2 separate regions of the Homo sapiens genome follow, and region 2 is linked to region 1. Evidence: fine-mapped expression QTL. A gene starts in region 1. The other region holds a variant in brackets. All regions are shown on one strand. Distances are between the middles of the regions.

Region 1 (11,454 bases):
AGGTGATGATTCGGCAGTTGTCACACTGCCTCTCTAAAAATGAGAATTGGTCACAGGCACCAGGGAGAGGCAATTTCCTGATGATCCAGCAGTTGTCACATTAAAATGTAATTGGTCACAGGTGCCAGGGAGAGGCAATTTCCCAATAGATAAAAACACTTGAAATTGGTAATCAGCAGCTTCCAGTAAAATCTCAGGTATTGGGCAAGTGAGCCTGGGCATGCACATTAAGAGACAAAAAGGCAGAGTATGACCTTCTGGGGGCATTCCACTGGAAAAGGGAAGAAAGCCTCTGTTGAGCATGTGTACAACTGCAGTAAACACACTGCACATGCTCACCTCCCAAGTGCAATGAGGGCACTGTACATGTGGGTAGCCCACCCTAAAGGAAGAATAAAGGGAAAGGGATGCAAGACACCAAAAGTAGTCCAGCATATACAAGTCAAAAGGTCAAATGCTGCACTTGTCTTTCAAGTTGCCCATTGGGGCCCCTTCCAAGTGTCCTTTCCTTTCTTTCGTTCCTGCTCTAGAGCTTTTTAACAAACTTCTACTCCTGCTCTAGAGCTTTTTAACAAACTTCTACTCCTGCTCTAAAACTTGCCTCAGTCTCTTCTTCTGCCTTATGCCCCTCAGTCAAATTCTTTCTTCTGAGTAGGCAGGAACTGCAGTTGCTGCAGACCAGTATGGATTAGCTGTCAGTAACGAATATTCGCCACCCCTAACAGTGTCTGGCCACAGCAAGTGTCATCTTATCACCTCATTCCACCATACATATGCTTATCACTCTCAGAGCTCAGTAGTTTCACTATCAGCTGAGTCACTTGTCATAAGTGACTCCATTTTGAGACATTTAGGATCACAAACATTATAGATCACAAAAAGGTATTAAATATGTAAATTAGGCACAAATGTTTATAAATGAACTCTTCATAGTTTCAGAAATCTTTTTGGTAACTTAAATCCTTAAGTAATAAATAGTCATTAAATGTTCAGGTTATTTCTAAATAAGTTAGAATACTAAAACATTAATTACTAATCACATGTTTAAAATTTATATACGTTGGCATCTTGCTTTTATGTGGTATAGAGAAGCAAAATATATTTGGGTCTGTTAGTAAACACTTAAAAATTTGTTCTATGAGAAAGTACATGCCTCTAGAAATTATGAAATAAACTGTAGGGGCCAAAGGAAGACCTCTCCTTCACTCTGTGAAGATTTGCTGAAAAATCAACTCACAAGAGGGAGATTAATAGGAGAAATGGCACGCACATTTATTGGCTTGCGTGGAGAGAATCACAGAGTGATTCCCCCCCGCCCCCTATTGGAGTACGGAAGCTTATATACTATTTCGAGGTTACAGAAAGAATGGGGACTTGGAGCATAGCCAAAAACAGGTTGTGGTGGTAAATCAGGTTATAGCTGCAAGATGGGTTATGGGAGGGAGAGAAGTGGAGACCTGGCTGGCAAAGGTTGTCTTGTTATGTAGATGAAACATGACAGGTAGCAGCCATCAGAAACAATAGATGATAAATATTTTTCATAGACCTTTAAGGTGTCAGACTCTCAGTTAATCTTTCCTAGATCTAGACAAAGAAGGGCTTCAGAGAAACTTTGGTTGCATCAATGCAGATTCTTTATAGATGCAAAATCTTCCACAAGAAAAGAGTTTTGTGGGGTTACTTCTGCTCATTGTGTTAATGGTGGAAGATGTCCAGGTTCTTGGCGTCATGAACAAGGAATTGGACAAAACGCACAAACAAAGCAAGGAAGGAATGAAGGGTTTTATTGAAAATGAAAGTACACTCCATAGTGTGGGAGCGGGCCTGAGCATAGGGGCTCAAAGACCCCATTACAGAATTTTTGGGAGTTTAAATATCCCCTAGAGGATTCCATTGGTTACTTGGGGTATGCCCTATGTAAATGGAGAGGATGAAGTTACAAAGTCATTTACTTGGCCTGTGCCCTATGGAGAGGATATTTCCTGTCATGGCTGAAGTGTGAATCAGCCTTATGTTCCCTACCTCCAGATCCTATTTCCCTGCCTCAGTTGGCTGTCTGGATAGCCATCTCAAAACATGTCAAAGAAGTATATTTTGGGATGAAATATTTTGATTCTCTTCAGTATATTCATAAAATATTGGCATAAGACAGTTCAAATTGCCATTTCTTACATTTTCATAAAAAATAAGCTTACTAAGAATTCAAAATTTTAATTAAATATGTAATTAAAATTACTAGAAATAAAAAAAATATATGTATGTAAAGTGTACAAGGAAAGTAAGGTGTGTTTTTGTTACTGGGGGTCCTTGCTCCCAGAGCTCCCAAGATGGTGGTGGGCCACTTCCAAAATGGCAACAGGCCACTTCCAAGATGGTGGCAAGCCTCATGTTCTCTGACCTGGGGTTCTTGGCCTCACGGATTCCAAGGAATGGAATCTTGGGCCATGCGGTGAGTGTTATAGCTCTATTAGAAGTCGTGGGTCATGGAAAAGAACCGTGGAATCCAGTGACTAGTGTTCAGCTCGATTAGTACGAACCCAGGCACTTAGCCATGTGGGAACAATGGCAAGCCTTTAGCCAGATGGGGAGTGGTAATGGGCACCTCGCTAGATCAGGAGCACAGCGGACACCCTGCTGGATCCGGAGGGGTGGAAGTCAGCAGCGGGTCTGCGACAGCTGCAATACAGCAGTGGTGAATGGCGAGCAAAAGCTCAGCTCGAGCCATAACAAACACGGACCAGAAGAGTGCAGTTGCAAGATTTAATAGAGTGAAATAGAGTGAAAACAGAGCTCCCATACAAGGGGAGGGGACCGAAAGGGGTTGACGTTGCCGGCTCGAATGCCTGGGTTTATATCCCGATCCTTGTCCCTCCCGCTGTGCTCTCAGGCAATAGATGATTGGCTATTTCTTTACCTCCTGTTTTTGCCTAATTCGCATTTTAGTGAGCTCTCTGATTGGTCGGGTGTGAGCTAAGTTGCAAGCTCCGTGTTTAAAGGTGGATGCGGTCACCTTCCCAGCTAGGCTTAGGGATTCTTAGTCGGCCTAGGAAATCCAGCTAGTCCTGTCTCTCATTTTGGCAAGAGAAATTGTAAAAAGACATGAGAATATATTTTTGTTAAAAGAGCAAATTTCATCTAATTTGGAGGTTTTTGAAAGGATATTTCAAAATATAGATTTAGGAAGTGTCGACAAAAAGTGTCAAACTCTAAAATATTTAAAGGGATTTATTCTGAGCCAAATATGAGCAACCATGGCCCTTGACACAGCCCTCAGGAGGTCCTGAGAACATGTGCCCAAGGAGGTGAGGGTGCAGCTTGGTTTTATACATTTTAGGGAGGCATGAGACGTCAATCACATACATTTAAGAAATACATTGGTTTGGTCCAGGAAGGTGGGACAATTCCAAGGCGGGGCTTCCAGGCTATCAGTAAATTTAAGGTAAATTTAAACATTTTCTGGTTGACAATTCGTTGAGGTTGTCTAAAGAACTGTGACCAATAGAAAGGAATGTCTGGGTTGTGATAAGAGGTTGTAGAGACCAAAGTTTTACTATGTAGATGAAGCTTTTAGTTAGCAGGCTTCAGAGAGAATAGGTTGTGAAATATTTCTTATCAGACTTAAAGCCTATGTTGATGTTAATGCTGAAGAGGTATAATGAGGCCTGTTCAACCCCCACTTCACATCATGACCTAAAACAGTCTCTCAGGTTCAATTTTAAGAACGCTGGCTGAGGAGAAAGTCCATTCAGATGGTTGAGGGGACTTAGAATTTTATTTTTGGTTTACAGAAGGAAATACAAACAAGGCAGGGAATGAACTGGTAAGCAGAAGAGATTAAAAAAAAAGTTATAAGTATGAAGATGTAGTTTTGGTAAAGAAAGATGAAAAAAGTAATTTTTTCTTTTGCTTAAGAGAACTTTGTGTGGTCAAAATGATATAGGGAAAAGGAAAGTAAACTGCAAGTTATAGAAAGTTCACAGAATAGAAATCTCATGAAAGAAATTTTTTGTGTCATCAAGTTGCCTAAAATAGAAGCTAATTATAAATAATACAAAGTTTTGCCAAAAATTGACGATTAATAAAAAATGCGCTGGTGAAGGCAAGGTTTTGGGCTCCTGTGTTGGAATAACTGGGTTTTCTCAGAACATTAAGCTGTTTTTAAAAGGAAATTGTGCGAGGTTTTTCTTTACCTTTTAGGTAACTGGCCTAGGGAACAGAGATTCTGTGTTTAATCAAGATAATTTCGTGGGCTTTGTGCCTGTGAAATCTTTTGTCACTTCCATTTTATTTCATAGTGACCTGTGATCCTATTTTGATCAAGTATTCTAGACCACTGATAGTTGACAAACTTCTCAAATATCAAAATTAAGTATTTTTGACCTTGAAGTAACTTTGGGATATTATGACAAGCCCTAGAACTTCTGAAAGTAGTTGTAAAAGAGATATTACACCATCAGCTTATCTGATATGTTCATTTATATGAGAAGCACTGTCTAAATAAGGAATGATGGTTAATCTTCTCTGAGTTATATTTACATGGATATATTATTAATGTGTGTTCCGAAATTGTATAACATTCCTAGAACTCTGATATGTCTTGGTATAAATACTATCAGTCACAATGTTGGTTCAGAAATAACCAAATTTTTTTGTCAATTGCATCACTATTATAATAGACTTTCATCAGGTTTTTAATAATGGCTATTTTCAGACTTGATGTCCACAGTTAATAGTATTTTTTAGTAAAGAGGGGGTTTCACCATGTTGGCCAGGCTGGTCTCAAACTGCTGACCTCAAGTGATCCACCCGCCTCAGCCTCCCAAAGTGCTGGGATTGCAGGCGTGAGCCACCATGCCCAGCCTAAATCTTTATTTTTTTTATAAAACAATATTATGTGAACATTTTTATAAAACGGTAAATGATATGGTTTGAGTGTTTGTGTTCCTCCAAAATTCACATTGAAACTTAATCTCCAGTGCAACAGTATTAAGAGGTAGGGCTTTAGGGAAGTAATTAGGCCACGAGAGCTCCACCTTCATAGATGGGCGCCGTGCAGCAGGGGGCGGCGCTCGTTGGGGAGGCTTGGGCGGCACAGGAGCCCACGGAGGCGGGGGTGGGGGTGAGGCTCAGGCATGGCGGGCTGCAGGTCCCGAGCCCTGCCCCGCGGGAAGGCAGCTAAGGCCTGGAGAGAAATTGAGCATAGCAGCTGCTGGCCCAGGTGCTAAGCCCCTCATTGCCCAGGGCAGCAGCGCTGGCCGGCTGCTACGAGTGTGGGGCCCACCGAGCCCACGCCCACCCAGAACTCCAGCTGGCCCGCAAGCGCCACGCGCAGCCCCGGTTACCGCTAGCGCTTCTCCCTCTACACCTCCCCGCAAGCTGAGGGAGCCAGCTCTGGCCTCGGCCAGCCCAGGAAGGGGCTCCCACAGTGCAGTGGCGGGCTGAAGGGCTCCTCAAGTGCCGCCAAAGTGGGAGCCCAGGCAGAGGAGGTGCCGAGAGCGAGCGAGGGCTGTGAGAGCTGCCAGCAAGCTGTCACCTCTCACTAGTTTATTCCCTCTCTCTGGCCTGAGACTTTAAGAGCTACATTTCTGGCTCTAATCATTAGGAGTATCCATCTACATTGACTATACTTTATTTTGTCTTTAAGACAATACTTGATTCTTTTCTACTTTCATTACAGTGACACACTAAACTTTTACTTTATATTTTCCTGGTCTGTTTTTTGTATTCTCTCTCTAGGATGGGCTGTAGTTAATTCCAGTCACACGAGTATTTGCAGAACATTGTCTTACTTTGCCCTAACTTAAGTAAACCCCAAATATTATAAGAGTTTAGAAAAGCTGTGCATAGAGGGGTCACCCACTATTCCATGGTTCTCATTTCCACTTTGTTTCTCCAGGTCACATCTGAATCATTCCAGACAAGGTCCTATACCTCATTAAGCCTCAGCACCTTCAGGAAGCTGGTGATTCTGAGTTGAGAGTCCCCTTGTGAGGAATACATGGAGAAAAAAGTAATGTAGCAAGTACAGAGCTTGAGCTACCATAGGCACTCTGAGTCTCTGAGTCTCTGAGTCTGCAGAGTAAATGAATACAATGTAATGCACTGGAGATGACCAGCAAGCTGAGTTTTCCGTGTTTGTTTCAATAAGTATCTGGGTCCTAGGCCTCATGATTGTGATTGTTGCTAACCACCTTTGCAGGAGTGGCTACATTAGAAACATCTCCCTGGGTGTTAGGCTGGCAGCAAACTTTGGGGAGTGGTAAGAACAGGAAGTTAATTCTGTGACTCCTAGGACACTCCTCTCTATGCTTGGGGAAGGAACTTCCTGTAAGCAAGGCTTGAGGCTTGCTCTCGCCTTCGTCAGCAGCCCTCCTCAATCTTCTCCAAACTCCCGTCCCCAGGCCACACAGATTCTCCTCAAGAGAGCCCTATAAGGACATTGGTAAAATGTCACTGCCTTCAGGACACACTACGGGTGAGTTGGCCAGCATGAGGCTGGAGTCTCAGGTCTCACAGGGCAAAAGGGACTGAGCCCCCTTCCCCACCTTACCCTAACCCACATAACACCCAGCCAATCTCCCTTTAGATGGGGGTGGGCAGTGGCAAGGGCCCAGGCCTGAGTCTTGTGGCCTTCTCAGGGCCAGGGTTTGAGGTATGAGGAGGGTCACCTGAGGCAGGGGTTGGTAAAAATTAACATTCCTTGGATGTACACTAGAGGTGGTAGTGGGGCAGGGAATACATCTTTAATCTTCACACTAACCATTCAAGGTAGATTGTATTACCTCCCACCCCAGCCCCAGAAATTTATCAAGGCTAGCCTTATGGCCCAGCATATGACTTATTCTGGAATGTTCCATGTGAAGGTTTTCTGTGCAGTGTTCTATGTCATTTAAGCAAACTTATTACTCATGCCATTTAAATCTTCTATATGTAGCTGAATTTTTGTCTGCTAGTTTTATCTGTTACTCAGAGAGGTGTGTTAAATTCCCACATCACAGTGGTTTTAACTATTTCTCTATTTACTTAGATCAGTTTTTGCTTTGTATCTAAACATAGATTGGTCCATGTTAAGACATGCATACAAATTTAGAATTTCTTTTTTTTTGTATAACTTGAAACTTTATTTTTAAAGTATTCTGAAATTTTTTCAATAATTTTAACCAGCACTTACTTCCCTTAAGCACACACACATTTTTATCTTACAATTATAAGCCCTATTGCAGTACAAAAAAAAACAATAATTCTACTAAGTTAGCCAGCCAATTAATTCTACTAAGTTAGCCAGCCAATCAAACTATGTCCGTAAATAATCATGTTACAGCCTAGAATCAAACAAAAAATTCTTCTAGTTCTCTTTAAAGATATTTATCATTAATTTTTTCATAAAACCAAAGTAATTGATCCAACAATACTAACAGTTCTAGCATGCAACAGACCATCTAATATCTAATGTTTAATCTTCTTCTTTTTTTTTTTTTTTTTTTTTGTGATGGAGTCTTGCTGTGTCGCCCAGGCTGGAGTGCAGTGGCACAATCTCGGCTCACTGCGAGCTCTGCCTCCCGGGTTCACGCCATTCTTCTGCCTCAGCCTCCCGAGTAGCTGGGACTACAGGCATCCGCCACCATGCCTGGCTAATTTTTTGTATTTTTAGTAGAGACGGGGTTTCACGGTGTTAGCCAGGATGGTCTCGATCTCCTGACCTCGTGATCCACCTGTCTCGGCCTCCCAAAGTGCTGGGATTACAGGCATGAGCCACCGCGCCTGGCCTAATCTTCTTAACATGTGTATTTTCATTCCTATAAAGTTTCCTTAAGAAGCTTGCAATAATAATAAAGGTAAATAAGTACAGTTGTCCCTTGGTATCCATGGGGTATTGGTTCCAGGACCCCCCCTACCCTGCCCACCCACAGATACCAAAAATCCAAGTATACTCAAGTCCCTTACATAAAGTGGCATACTTGCATATAACCAGCGCACATCCTCCTGCATACTTTATCTCTAGACTAATACCTAATGGAATGTAAATGCTATTTAAATAACAGTTATATTGTATTTTTTATTTGTATTATTTTTATATTTTTCTCTCCTATTATTTTTGATCTGCAATTGGTTTAATTCACAGAGGCAGAGTCCGTGGATACGGAGGACCAACTGTGTTTTGTTATAGGTACTTCAAATAGCACTTCAGTACATCTTTGACAAAATTTTTACAATATTCCAACTTTCAATATGAAACAGCTTAAAAAGGCATGGGTCAAAAAAAAAGTATAGTAGCATCACTTAGGCAAATAAAGCCTCATAATCATACAAACACAACACTGTTAGGACTCTCCCTGTTTAGGTCGGGAAAAAGAGTATATAAAACATTTCCTTCAAATAAAATTACATAAATTGCTTAGAAAAATGCCAAAATCAATAATTTCAGACATAATAAGGAGAAAACCTTGAACATTATTGGAAAATATAAACTAGCTATTCCTTGCTTTTGTGTAACAGATGAGTTCTTGAAAAGTTTTGTATTAAGCAAATTCTGTAAACCACTATCTTGCCTGCACTGGAAGAACATATCCCAAGGAAACCTAAGAGAAAGTGTTTTTTAAAGCATGTGATTCTCCTCTGTTTTTGTTGGCTGTCTCTACGTAATAAACAGGCACACTTCTACATCATTGGGTGTTTTACTCAGACTGCCATGTTTCATCTCTGTAAATTAAACCCAAGTTACTTAAAAATCACCTGTGGTAAAAGAAGCAAGCAGATCACCCCCACCTTCTATCCCTCCCGCCTCCCCCTGCCCCAAAAGGGAGTTCTCAGATTATGATGCAAAATTTACAATTGTTCTTTTATCCACATTCTCAATAGAGGATTTTCCACTATATTTAAGTATGGTAGGATAATTACCCACCTGTTCCTCTTTTCAGCTTAGAAACATAATGGTTAATTCCTTTTATTGCTAGAAAATGTCATTCCTGAAGATTTTATAAACAAAGGCAAAGGTGAAGGACAATTTGTCATTATGAAATAAGTCCTTTGTAGTTTAGAATATTTCCCAAATCATAACAGTTCTATTTGGAATGATACCCACAACTCTACAAGCATCTTATCCCTCTACAGGAATGACTACCTTACTAATCAAAATAAAAATTTAACAAGGATCAAAATAAAATTATTTAGCATTAGACTCTTGCAAAAATAAAAACTAAAACTAGACCTAGTCATTGCCATTTGATCAAACTTAGAACAGGCTTAAATAATAGGACCACTCCATTAAAGAGGCATAAAAAGAAAAGTTTACTAAAATAAATGTTAAAGTCTTATGGAGATGAAGATCTCTAGAATAGAGTCTTAAATCTATGACTACTGCTATAATTAATGAGCAAATGAATGACTTGAAATTATTCCTCTGAAAAGATAAAACTGCATACATATTATGAAAAAGACTATGGCACTTGGAAAATATTCCTGGTAAATAAACATGGTAAATGTATATGGATACATCCTAGCCTCTTGCCTACTTTTAAATTATTTTGAGAAAGATGTCACTCGCTGGGAAAAAAAAAAGAAAAAAAAAACCTTAATCACCTGAAGAAGTGAAATTACCACATAGTCCTAAAAATAAATAGCTTTGAAAAGACCAATGAAAAAATACTATAATTTTCTCATCCATTTTCACCTTTAGTGCCTCTGTAGTTCTTTAAATTTACAAAAAATTTCCAATGCAATTTGAGCCACATGTGGACAAAATTATGCTTTCATATGAAATGTAAGATAAATGAAATATAGCAGGGATATGTGCTGCAGCTAAAAACCAATTTTTGCCTCTCGGTCTTTTGAGTATATATAAAAAGAGATGGCATGTCTTAAGGAATAATTCCTTTAAAAATGAATGAGACTAAATTATTTATACAGCATCATGAATTTATATTTTTCAATACAGACACAGCATATGTTTACAATATTAAAATGCCTACTTTATAGCATCAAATCATGTTCTTGCCTCTAAAAATTAATTTGGCTGTTTCTAAAACATTGTATTAATTTTCTATGTATTTTACCTCCTTACTATGCAGGACAAACAAATGCCTGTGAAACCATTCAATTTAATGCAGGCCTCTTGATAAAAACGCATTTTAAATAATACAGGCTTTAAAAATAAGATCACCAGAGACCACAATTGTTAGTGGTTGTGACAGTTTACATAACCGAATCCAAGGCAACCAGTTTCTCTTGTGGTCGTTCTTTAAATTGAGTAAGTTGATGTCTCTTCCAGTGAGGAGCCTGTCGGAATGTTTTGCCACAAACTGAGCATTCAAATAGTTTCTGCCCTGCATGAATTAGTTAGTGTTTTTCCAGTATAGATGGAGATCAGAAACTCCTAGCACAAACACTGCGTCGGTACAGGAAGACATCATTTTTCTCCTGATGTTCTGAATAACTGCAAAAAGGATGGCTTTGCTCTGATTCCAAAAGTACATTAGGAAGACAGGGCTGCCTGGTGCTACCAGGAATAAAATCCTGTGAGTCTGCCTTAACTCCTGACATTTGATCTGACTCTGAGACCTCGTATTTTTGAACACCAGGAGCCTGACATTGTTGGGAATCATTATAGTTAACATTATTACGTGGATGATTAGAAAGATTGTTCAAGTTTCCAAATTCTACTTGGCAAAGGGATGCATAAGGACTCTTTTCATTATGAATCTGTTCATGTCTTTTTAAGTGAGCTGACTGTCTAAAAGATTTCCTACAAATATTAACAGCAAAAAGGCCTCTGTCCAGTATGAACTAAATAGTGTCTTTTTAGTTTGGATACAGAAGGAAATACCTTCTCACATTTGTCACAGAGACATATCTTATGTCTAGTACGTATGTTTTCCCTTGGAACTGAAAAACCACACTGAAGTACCTCACAGTTATTAAATAATTCCTCACCTGATGAGCCACAGATTGACAAGTCTTTCTTATTCACTGAATTATCAATGCTTAATAAGTTTGCTGTAGTAAGGATACCTTTCATTTTTTTCCCACATTTTGGTTCTGGAACTGCTTTTGCCAAGAAAATCGCAAAGTCAATGTTTTTTTTTATTGCCAATTGTTTTATATGTTCCATGTTTGCCAAGAGAACCCACAAATGTTCTTTGGGTTTGTTCAGAGCACGGCTCACCAGAAATACGATCACAATTTTTCAAGAATCTCTTTTTAAATACTTTTTTCTAGGATCAAAAGTTATCTAATTTTTTACTCCTAGCACGTTTAAGCTTGGCCAATATTTTTTTTAACAATGGTTTTATAGTTGTAGCTTCTTTTGAACCTGCTTGGAATTTTGCCACCTCTAGCAGGAAAACACATGTGTTCATTGAGAATCTGCTGTGATTCAAAACATTTTCACACTTTGGATATTGAAAAGGGACAATATAAATTGAGTGGACATAAAGTGGATTATTCTACTCAGATTCA
Region 2 (11,454 bases), 37 kb after region 1:
CTGATGGTTTCCCTAAAGTTATTACGGAAACAGACCCCTGCTTTCGAATTTACATGTTCATGATGTGCCCTTGTTGTAAACCTTTACCTGTCACTTGTTTACGTGGGTCTCCTATTACCAGCTTCTAATTGAATATTGTGTTTTTGAACCAGTCTGTAAGATTTTTGTTAGCAGAAGAATTTTACCTATTGCATGGAAAGATGCTCATTATAGTGAAGTTAATAAAGCACCTTTAAAAAGCAATCTCTATATTCTTTTTTTGTTAAAAATTTATATTGATTGTACTTAATACATGAAAAGAAAAGTACTGAAATTAAATATACCAAAGGATTAATATAGGGACTCATTCTATGAGATGGGTTAATGTATTTTTTATATTTTCTGTAATTTAAGAAAAATTGGAAACATTTTTAAATAACCTTTGAAGGCAGTAGAGTCACTTAATAAATACTTGCTGATCAGCACTACTCACAAAAGCAAAGACATGGAATCAACATAAATGTCCATCAGTGAGAGACTGGATAAAGTAAATATACATATACATCATGGAATATTATGCAGCCATAAAAATAAAGAAATCATGTCTGTTGTGGGAATATGGATAGAGCTGGAGGCTATTATCCTTAGCAAACTAATGCAGGAACAGAAAACCAAATACTGCATATTCTCATTTATAAGTGGGAGCTAAATGAAAACTCATGAACACAAAAAAGGGAACAACACACACTGGGATCTGTAGGGGTGGAGAGTGGGAGGGGGAAGAGGAACCTAAAAGATAACTATTGGGTGCTGGGCTTAATACCTGGGTAATGAAATAATCTGTGCAACAACCACCCCCCCACCTGCCCCCAGCCCATGACACAAGTTCACCTATGTAACAAACCTTCACATGTACCCTGGAACCTAAAAGTTTTCTTAAAAAAAGAAAAAAAAAATACTTGCTAATCAAATTTGGATCTCTTAGCCAGGTAAATAAACTCAGGAATTTGTATAAGTTGGGGGTGGCATTTCCTTCACATGACTGGAATGAGGTCATTTGTGTGAGACCTGTGTTTACCTGTTTTTTCTCCCATCCACACCTATTATGCAAGACTCTCATCCTCAGATTTTCCCTTCAGATGTTTAGCAGAGTGCTCAAAGGTAGGTCTCACTAGTCCAGCATAGTTCCTATTCTCAGGAATAAAATGTCTGTTGGTCATGCTGTGGTTTCTTCATGACGAGGCAGGCACTTAACCGAAGTAAAATTAATAATGACTGAGTCAGGAGCTCTGAGTTTTTGTCTCGGTTCAGTTTCTAAACAAGTAAATAACTTTGGATGTGTAACTTAGATTACTTGCCATTCCTAAAGGAACACTGGGTTCATTTAGTAATGTCACAGTGTTTCTAAAACTATGCTAATCTGCCACCTGTGTGAGAATCACCAGGGGATTTCTTGAAAATGTGGATTCATACAAAGTTCTTGGGTCCCAACATAGATCCCCTGAATGGGGCTTCAGAACTTTTGTTTTTAGCAAGCTTTCCTGGTGATTCTGATGCACATTAATGTCTAAATGGCTACTGGTATGTAAATATTTACTATGATGTCAATTTTTTTTTTTTTTCTGAGACGGAGTCTCGCTCTGTTGCACCTCTGCCTTCCGGGTTCACGCCATTCTCCTGCCTCAGCCTCCTGAGTAGCTGGGACTACAGGCACCCGCCACCACGCCCGGCTAATTTTTTGTATTTTTTAGTAGAGATGGTGTTTCACCGTGTTAGCCAGGATGGTCTGGATCTCCTGACCTTGTGATCTGCCCACCTCGGCCTCCCAAAGTGCTGGGATTACAGGCGTGAGCCACCGTGCCCAGCTGATATCAGTTCTTAAAAGCCATAATAACTTGCAGAATATAAAGGTGAATATCTGAATTCAGTTCAGGGAACCATTAAAATGTAAAGGATGAGATCATGAAAAAAGCATTAGATTTATTACATAACAATTTGAATTTTATTATCTTTTGTGGAATATTAGGTGATTTCTTCTGTACTCAACTGCATTTTTCTTAACATGGATTACGTTAAGAAGAAATACAAGCTAACAACAGATCCAGATCCAAAGAACTATTCAGTTAGCTTACAAATGCAATTGAAACACATAAAAATTCCCATTGACAGAACTGAGATATGTAAATTTCATGTTAGCCTTGGATAGAGTATTCATGCCTTGGTGTAATTATCCCTCCTATGGAGTGCAGGTAAAATAACTGTCTTAATCAATAGAATACAGCAAAAGTGACGGGATGTCACTTCTGTGATTATGTTACAGAAGATTGTGATTGTCATCTTGCTAGCAGATTCATTCTGTCTCTTCCTTCCTCCTTCCTCCCACTTTTGCTGGCTTTGATGAAACAAGCTGCCATGTTGGAGAGGCACATATAGCAAGGAATTGAGAGTGTTCGCCAGCCAACAGCCAGTGAGGAACTCAGGCCCTCAGTCTAATAGCCCTCGAGGAATTGAATCCTGCCAAAACAACAAAGGTGAGTTTGGAAGCAGATTCTTGCCCAGCTTAGTCTTCAGATAAAACTGTGGCCCAGGCTAACATCTTGATTGCAGCCTTCTAAAAGACCCTGAGGTGGAGGATCCAGATAAGCCACACCCAGACTTTTGACTCACAGAATCTCTGGGATAATAAATGAACGTTCTTGTAAGCTGCTAAATTTTGGGGTGATTTGTTACACAACAATAGATAATTAATACAGTCTCTAAAGGATAATGGTGTTTTAAAACAACCACAGCACCATTATCAAACATAAAAATGGGCAAAAATTTCTTAATGTCCACTCTTCAAATTCTCAGTAGTTATATATATATATATATATATATATATATATATATATATATATAGAGAGAGAGAGAGAGAGAGAGAGAGAGAGAGAGAGAGAGAGAGATGGAGTTTCACTCTTGTTGCCTAGGCTGGAGTGCAATGACAGTCTCAGCTCACTACAGCCTCTGCCTCCCGGGTTCAAATGATTCTGCTGTCTCAGCCTCCCAAGTAGCTGGGATTACAGTTGCCCGCCACCATGCCTGGCTAATTTTTGTATTTTTAGTAGAGACAGAGTTTCACCATGTTGGCCAGGCTGGTCTCGAACTCCTGACCTCAGGTGATCTGCCTGCCTTGGCCTCCCAAAGTGTTGGGATTACAGGTGTGAGCCACTGTGCCCTCCCAGGTCTCATAATTTTTAACCTGAAACTATGTAAACTAACACAAAATAAATTATGTGCTTGAGGAACACTATTGGCCTCATCAAATTACAAATAACAGGAAACACCTAATGTAAAGCCTTCTACGGAGAAGCTGACAAAAGAATGCGTGTTTGAAAAAACGCCTCAGATCCAACATAGGTCTGGGGTCACAGACTCTGAAAGTCTAGCAAATGATAACAGAAAAGCTGGTCTGTTTATGCAATGAAAATTTAAGACAGTCTGAGGATAAGGAAGGGTTGTGACACACAACTGAGTAACCCCAAACAATCATTTGATACTCTGATATCTGCATTTTTCAGAAGTCTTGTCAAATAGTTACATGTACTCAGATTTGTCAAAGTAACTTGTTTAACTCTAGAAGGAAAAAAAATACCTGCATGGTGGCTCATGCCTGTAATCCCAGCACTTTGGGAGGCTGAGATGGGTCAGGAGTTGGAGACCAGCCTAGCCAACATGGCGAAACCCCATCTCTACTAAAAATATGAAAACTAGCAGGGTGTGGTGGTGGGCGCCTGTAATACCAGCTACTCAGGAGGCTGAGGCAGGAGAATTGCTTGAACCCGGGAGGCGGAGGTTGCAGTGAGCCGAGATCGCGCCATTGCACTCCAGCCTGGGAGACAGAGCGAGACTTTGTCTCAAAAAGAAAAAAAAAAAAGAAAAACTGGCTGCAGGCTGATAAAGTCGGAAAGATGCAGGCATAAATTACAAGATTACCATTCACTATTGCCATTGAGTAAATACCTTCAATGACAAGTTGTATTACAGTGCTATTAGAGGAAACATGGGACTGAGACAACAGGATAAACCAAAAAGCATAAGAAACCATTTCATTATCCAGTTTGATTGAAGAAGGGATGGAGTATGTCACCAAGAAGCCATTTTTTTTTTTCTCAAGACACACAAAATTTAGGGGACTAATATAAATACAGTAGGCCCTTCATATTTGTGGGTTCCGCATCCATGGATTCACCCAATCGTGGATCAAAAATATTTGGAAAAACAAATTCTATAAAGTTTCAACAAGAAAAATTTGAATTTGCAATATGCCAAGTACTACATGGAATCTGCATTTAACAAAGTTATATGTAGGCATTGTATAAGGTATTAAATGTAATCTAGACGTTGTGTAAAGTTTACAGGAGGATGTGTATAGGTTATGGGCAAATTCTATGTCATTTTATTTTAAGAAACTGAGCATCTGCAGATTTTTATATTCCTGGGGGTTCCTGACACCAGTTCCCCATGGACATTGAGGGACAACTGACTGTACATGGAGGATATAACTTGTGAGTCTTCAGGGCCTCACATTTTGGAAATAAAGATGTCCTGTGAGCATTATAAATGAGTAAATCTGATAGACAACAGACATGATTTTCCATCTCTGTGGATAAAGCAGGAAAATATCTGTGAATACGATACTGAAAAGATTGGGTTCATCTAGTCAACGTCATCTGGAAGTAGTCCCATGGAGGTGGGGCAATGGAAGTGCTTCAGGAAGAAAAATAATAATAATAGTATGCTCTCATGAGCAGAGACTTGGAGATCCTTTAAACAGCATGGGGCTGAAACAAAACTAGAAGACCAAGGACAAATTTTAGAAGATTTTAAGGAAAGGAACTATGAAATAGATGGCATAAGTGCAGGGTAAGAGGCAGCTTAAGAGAGAAGGAGAGATGCAAAAACAGGGCACAAAACAATGCAGAATGAGCTGAAGGGGGTTCTGCCGGTAATATTCGACTAGCCCAGTGAAGAAAATGCATTCAGCACAGATCCATTAGCTATTAACTAATGGATACTTGAGGTACTAAAATGGATTTTTTTTAAAGAATAAAAAGTAGTTTCATTCCATGGGGAATTTATAGTAAACTGTTCCAACAGAACTAGAAAATAAAATTCTTATGAATGTTAAAGGAATAAAATTTACCACACAAGCTATGAATCAATATAATCGTTGAAGGAGGTAGTGAGAGTTTGAATTCCAAAAGACAGTATTTACAGAACCAAAGGAAATGTAGATGGGCAGATATAAAGATAAGCTTTCTATTGGAGGTCCTAACAAGGACAAAGGCAGTTGTGTATTGATAAATGTTTAACAACTGAGTTTCCATTAAACTATTTGTAGTGTTAGCCTATTTCCACTATGTAAATGCTCCTGCTACAGTTGATTTCCAGCTACCAACATGATGTCACTTAACGCAGAGTTGAGAAGGGATGTGCACAATTTGCTGTCAAGAGCACACCACTTGCTTAAAGGCCTCCCTCATCAAT[G/T]TGATTAAAAGAGGAACATTCCCATGCAAAGAAAATGAAAGATGAAAGTGGGAAAAGGAAATACATGTTGTAAAGGAGATGTAGGATGAGCATAAATGAGGGGAAGATGAAAGAAAAAGAGATCAAGGCAGACAGAAGTCAGCTGTATACAGTACTCTTATGAGCAAAAGGGCCAAGAAAAGTGTGTGAGAGTGTGCGTGTGTGTGTGTTTGTGAAAAGTGGGGGAGGTGTAATGGTGGGAAGGGATAGATTGGTTGATTACCTAGACATGAATACTCCTAGGCAGTTTAAAGGAGTGTTTGTAGAAGCATGGACTTTGGAGTCAGGAGACCTTACTTCAAATATTGGCACCACCACTTACAAGTACCGTGTGTGACCTTAAACAAAGTTGGTCAACCTCCCTTACCTTTATTTCTCTTACCTGTGAAATGTAGAAAGTGTTTAGCAAGATGCCCTTCATATACTAAGTTCTCAGTAAATGCTAGCTGTTAATGTTATAAAGCAGTAAAATGAAAAAATGCTTTTGATTCACTAAAAATGGGTAGTCTAATCTTTAAAAGTTAATAACATTAGTGGGTTTTAAAAAGTATTTATTGATCCCAGATGTCAAAATTTGGCCTAAAGAGGATCAAATCTGACAAGCACATAGTTTGTATCACACAGTGATATATGATTTTTGAATCACTGCTGATATTTAAAAATTGATAAATTCCACAGGAAAAATCGAGATTTTAGATTTTCATGAAAAACCAGGAGTTTTGTAAACCCTGGGGTTGCATTCCCACATTGCATCAGTTGACTGGAGGTAGCCTAGTGGTGGTTTCAATCCTTTAGAAAGGCAGGTGTTTCCGTTTTACTTTCCTTACTCAGCTTTAAAGAAAGTAAAGCTTGTTTACATTACCTAGTTACCTTCCTGGCCCCTAGAGGCACTTCAATTTGTATTCTTTAATTCATATCAAATACATTTCAAAAGTGATATGAAGCAATCGTTCAGCAAATGATTGAGATTCAGACCAATGCGGAATTCAATACTTTTTATGCTCCAAATCTGCAATTTACAATAAGGTAACCATGAGCCATATTTGGCTATTGAGAACTTAAAAAGTGACTAATGCAATTGGAGATGTGCTAAAAGTATAAAGTACACACAGGATTTTAAAGACATAGTACAATAAAGTGAAATATCAGTAATTTTATATTGATTATGTGTTGAAGTGATAGCATTTTGGATATACTGTGTTAAATATATTATTAAAATTAATTTTATCTGTTTCTTTTTACTTTTAAATTATGTTTACTACAAAACTTAAAATTAGATTTGTAGCTCATAATATATTTCTATTAAATAGCACCATTCCAAATCATTTAAAAGCTATACCATGTTTTTAAAATTAAAAAAACTTACTTTAAAATGTCTGATAAAAATGATAAACAATCATTTTGGAAAACACAAAGAAAAAATTAAAAATCTTAATTCTACTAAATATTGATAAATATTTCAGTTTCTTTTTGTTTAGATTTTTCTACATGAAATATTCATACATAGAATCTTATTCTATAAAAATTGGATCATACTGTACATACCATTTTATGTTCCTTTTTCACTTAACATTTAAACATAATCTTGGCTGGGCGTGGTGGTTCACACCTGTAATCCCAGCACTTTGGGAGACCGAGGCAGGCAGATCACTAGGTCAGGAGATCGAGACCATCCTGGATAACACGGTGAAACTCCATCTCTACTAGAAATACAAAAAATTAGCTGGGCCTGGTGGCGGGTGCCTGTAGTCCTAGCTACTTGGGAGGCTGAGGCAGGAGAATGGCGTGAACCCGGGAGGCAGAGCTTGCAATGAGCTGAGATCGCACCACTGCACGCCAGCCTGGGTGACAGAGCAAGACTCCGTCTCAAAAAAAAAAAAAAAAAAAAAAAAAAGCAACCATAATCTTTTTGAAATATCTTTAAGAATTCTTTGAAACAAAGTTGTTAAATGGATTAACAAATTGAGTACAATAATAACAAAACTGGGAGAAAGTACGAGAAAGTACAGATAATTATTTAATTCAAGTATGTTAAAGGCATTTCTCAGCATATGACTCAAGGAAATTAAACATAAAATAACTGATTTTATTACATAAAAAATAAACTTTTGTATAAGTACAATGTAAAAACAGGCAAATGAAATACTGAAAAATATTACATATAGGAAAGACAAAGGATTAATATTATAACTATATAGTAAATTGATTCAAATCAATCAAGGAAAGGGGAACATAAAAATATCAAAAACGACAAAAAAGGAAAGGTAAAAAATTTTATGACTGACTAATAGACACGTGGAAAAAATGATCAATTTCATCCACATCTTAGCTCAAGCTGCTATAACAAAATACCATAGACTAGGTGGCTTAAACAACAGAATTTTACTTCTCACTGTCTGGAGGTTGGAGTCAGAGTGCCAGCATTGTTGAGTTCAGTGAGGGTTTTCTTCCCAGCTTGCATTATAGATGGCTTCCTTCTTGCTGTATCTTCACAGGCAGAGAAAGAGATCCTGTGACTCTTTTTCTTTTTATAAGGCCACTAATCTCCTCCTGAGAGCCTCACTCTCATGATCTAATCTAATCCTAAGTACCTTCTAAGGATCCTACCTCCAAATACCATTACATTGGGGATTAGGGCTTGAACATACTAATTTTGGGGAAACACAAACATTCAGTCCACATCAGCTAGTAATCAAGGAAATGCAAATGAGAGCAAGTAACATTTTGAAGTATTAACTTGGCAAATAATTTTGATAATAACATCAGCCAACATTTATTGACAACTTATGATCTAAGTGCTTTACACGCCTTACTCATTCAATTTCCCTAACCATATAAATTGCTTACAGATGCTATTATAAGGAGATTGGACCACATATTCAAAGCCACATTACTTTATACTTGTGAGGCTGGAGTTGAACATAGACAGTCTGACTTCTGAATCCATGACATTATTAATTATTCATACCTAGAGATGAGGGTTCAGAAAAATGGGCAATTTTATACGGTGCTGGTGAGAATGAGAACTGGTACAACATTTCTGGAAGGTGGCTTGGAAATAAGTATTAAAAGAATATCTATAACCTAGAAATTCTATGCCTATTACTGTACTATATCACAAGTGAGTAGTCATACAAATAATTTGTATCTGGGCTTTGAAAATATCCAAGTGTGCAAGAATGTAAATATATGCAATAATAGGATGTTTATTTTAGCACTTTTGAAAAACCAAAAAACTCAATAAGACTTTAATGCTTAGAAATAATGGGAAAGATTAGTACATTAAGATGAAATAATACTTGGAAAAACTATACAGCCATTATAAATAATGGAGTAGTTCTGAGCAGAATGAAATGGAAAACTTTTTAGGCAATGTTGTTATATCAATTATATTGCATAGGGAGTTTTAGCTGTATATAAAAAATAATCCCCTCGAACTAGCTTAACTATTAAGGAAGTTTGTGATCTCACATAGCAGGAAGAGCACAGGTAGGTAGGACAGGCATCAGGGGCCATTGATTCAGTAACTAAATGAAGTCGTTAAGGATCCAGGTTCCTTCCATTTCTGGTCAGCTTCTGCTATGCCTGGTGTCAGCTTCATCCTAAGGCTGGAATTATCCCTAATGTAACAAGATGGCTGTTTATTGTGATAGAGTGTACATTCTTCTTTGTTTCTGTCCCTCAGGAGAGAGGGGAAAACCTTTCCTAACTATGGAATAAAATGCCATCCCTTCAATATGATCAGGCCATTTTAAGAGGATTGGCCACCCTCAACCAGTAATGGCCCTTAGGTAAATTCCAGGTATTGACAGGTTCAGAATAACTAGGACCTGTCCTCTGAAGCTTGTGGTGAAGTGGGATGGCATTGACATCCAGATATTTGGAGTTCTGTTAGGCAGGAAGAGGGAAATTCATGTTAGGTAGGTATAGATGACACTGGGAGCCTCAAACATAGGAATGGCTGAGGACACTATGGACTCCAAGAGGACCTGGTGGGAGGTGAAAGACAGAAAGAAGACATGCTGAATAATCTTTGGAAGGAAAGGAAGCGGGGCTTAAATAACTGAGGCAATCCAGAAAGTGCCAACACCCAGGGGAGGAGAGAAAAAAAAATAGAGGATCCAGAGAGAGAGAGAGAGAGAGGCTAAATAATATGACTCAATAAAAGCTCCCCAATGGACAAAAATCTGAGGGATCCCTGGATCCCTGGGGTTAAAACCGGAACAAGGAGCATTTTTCAGAGTACCAGCTCTGACAAGGCCATTCACTAGAGCTAAGGGGAAATCATGTGGGTCTGTGCCCACAGGATGCCCACAAAACCAGTCACTGAGGAACAGAATCAAGTGAGGAGAACTGCAAATAGATACATTCTTTAGAGTTGTTACTCTTATCACATACACAGCACCTCCCTTCCCATAATCTTGCCCTGCTCTGTGGACCATGTTGGGCATCCCTCTCCTTCCAGGAGTAGATAGAAAGTCAGCATTGAATGTTGTTGCACAACATCCCTGAAAAACAAACACTTTGGTTGTCTCAGCTTTGAATCTTGCTGAGGTTTGCAAAGGCTTCCACTGGGCACTGTTTGTTCACTTCTTAGGCCAGGTTACTCTCTTTACTTCACTAGCCCTTTCCAGAACATCTCAAACAACAACAACAAAGGGAAACAAACAAAAAAAAAACCCTCCAATCCAATCCACCTTTCTAGATCAGACCCAGATTCATCTTCCTCACAATAACTTCTCTGGCTCTACAGATACTCCCCTTCTCAGACTTTTATTGGGCTGACAGGACCCCATAATTTTTCAATTTTTTTTCCCCAGCAGTTGTTACATGCAACAGTGGACCTGCACAGGCATCCCATGTTCTGCTCCCACCCACACCCCATGATGCCTTAAATTATGTTTCATAATTGTTTTGTATCTATCACAGATCTTAGGCCACTGAATAATCAGTGAACTGGTCTTTCGGTTTCTCCTCTTACCCTTCTCCAATCCAGTCTCTATATGGCAATCCAAGGAACATTTTTTTTTTCTTTGAGAAAGAGTCTCACTCTTCCACCAGTCTGGAGTGCAGTGGCGCGATCTCGGCTCACTGCAACCTCTGCCTCCTGGGTTCAAGCGATTCCCCTGTGTCAGCCTCCTGAGTAGCTGGGACTACAGGTGTGTGCCACCACACCCGGCCAACTTTTTTTGTATTTTAGTAGAGATGAGGTTTCACCATGTTGGACAGGATGGTCTTGATCTCCTGACCTCGTGATCTGCCTGCCTTGGCCTCCTAAAGTGCTGGGATTATGGGCGTGAGGCATTGCACCCAGCCAGAACATTTTACAAGATAATTAGAGCATACACCTCCCCTCATTATATCCAATAAATGCCTCTGTTGCATTCAGGTAGTTAAAAAAAAATAAAACCCTTCAGGCCCTGTAAGATCTGGCTCTTGGCCACTACTCTGACACAGGTACTCTTTCCCTTCATTGCTAAGCTCCAGCGACACTGCTTTCCTTTAGTTCTAAATGGGCTGAGGACTTTCCTGCCTTAGAGCCTGTGCATTTGCTGTTTCTCCTGGGAGGCTAACCACACTCCTGCCCTGGCTAACAACTATTTACTCTTTAGGACTCATCTTAAATATCATGCCTACTGTTAGGGACAAGCTGCCCCAAAAAACTTCTTGGTACTGCCAACACTTCCCCCAAACCTCTCCGTGCTGCCCGTCCCTTCCCCTACACTCTGCAACTCTTCTCCTTCCCCCAAGCCTCTTTACATTTCTATGCCCTTATCCAGGCGCTGCAGTGAAGCCAGCATCACTTATCAGACCTTGCTGCAATAAACAAACCCCAATTATAAACCATCCGGACCGCACCAGGGGAGGTCGTGGGAAGCATAAACAAACTTTACCTACACCCCTGTAATA

Alleles and levels. Alleles are on the strand shown, and positions count from the first base shown. SD is a standard deviation of normalised expression in the study named.
As copies of G replace T in region 2, the expression in whole blood of the gene that starts at base 6,328 in region 1 goes down (small effect, 0.17 SD a copy in GTEx).

The links. PIP is the estimated chance that this variant, and not a neighbour inherited with it, causes the effect.
Region 2: its variant is the best candidate, but not a certain one, in a credible set for the expression of NXF3 in whole blood (GTEx, PIP 0.71).

The regions. Positions count from the first base shown.
Region 1 is chrX:103,088,017-103,099,470 of GRCh38, reverse strand. It overlaps NXF3 (nuclear RNA export factor 3), which reads left to right and starts at 6,328. Exons shown (of 20, transcript NM_022052.2): 1 at 6,328-6,475. The coding sequence starts at 6,448. It also overlaps the pseudogene LOC100128601.
Region 2 is chrX:103,051,440-103,062,893 of GRCh38, reverse strand. It overlaps BEX1 (brain expressed X-linked 1), which reads left to right. Exons shown (of 3, transcript NM_018476.4): 3 at 1-243. Among named protein-coding and RNA genes, the nearest start is that of BEX1, 7.0 kb to the left of the region's middle. The variant G/T (reference allele first, on the strand shown) is at 5,506.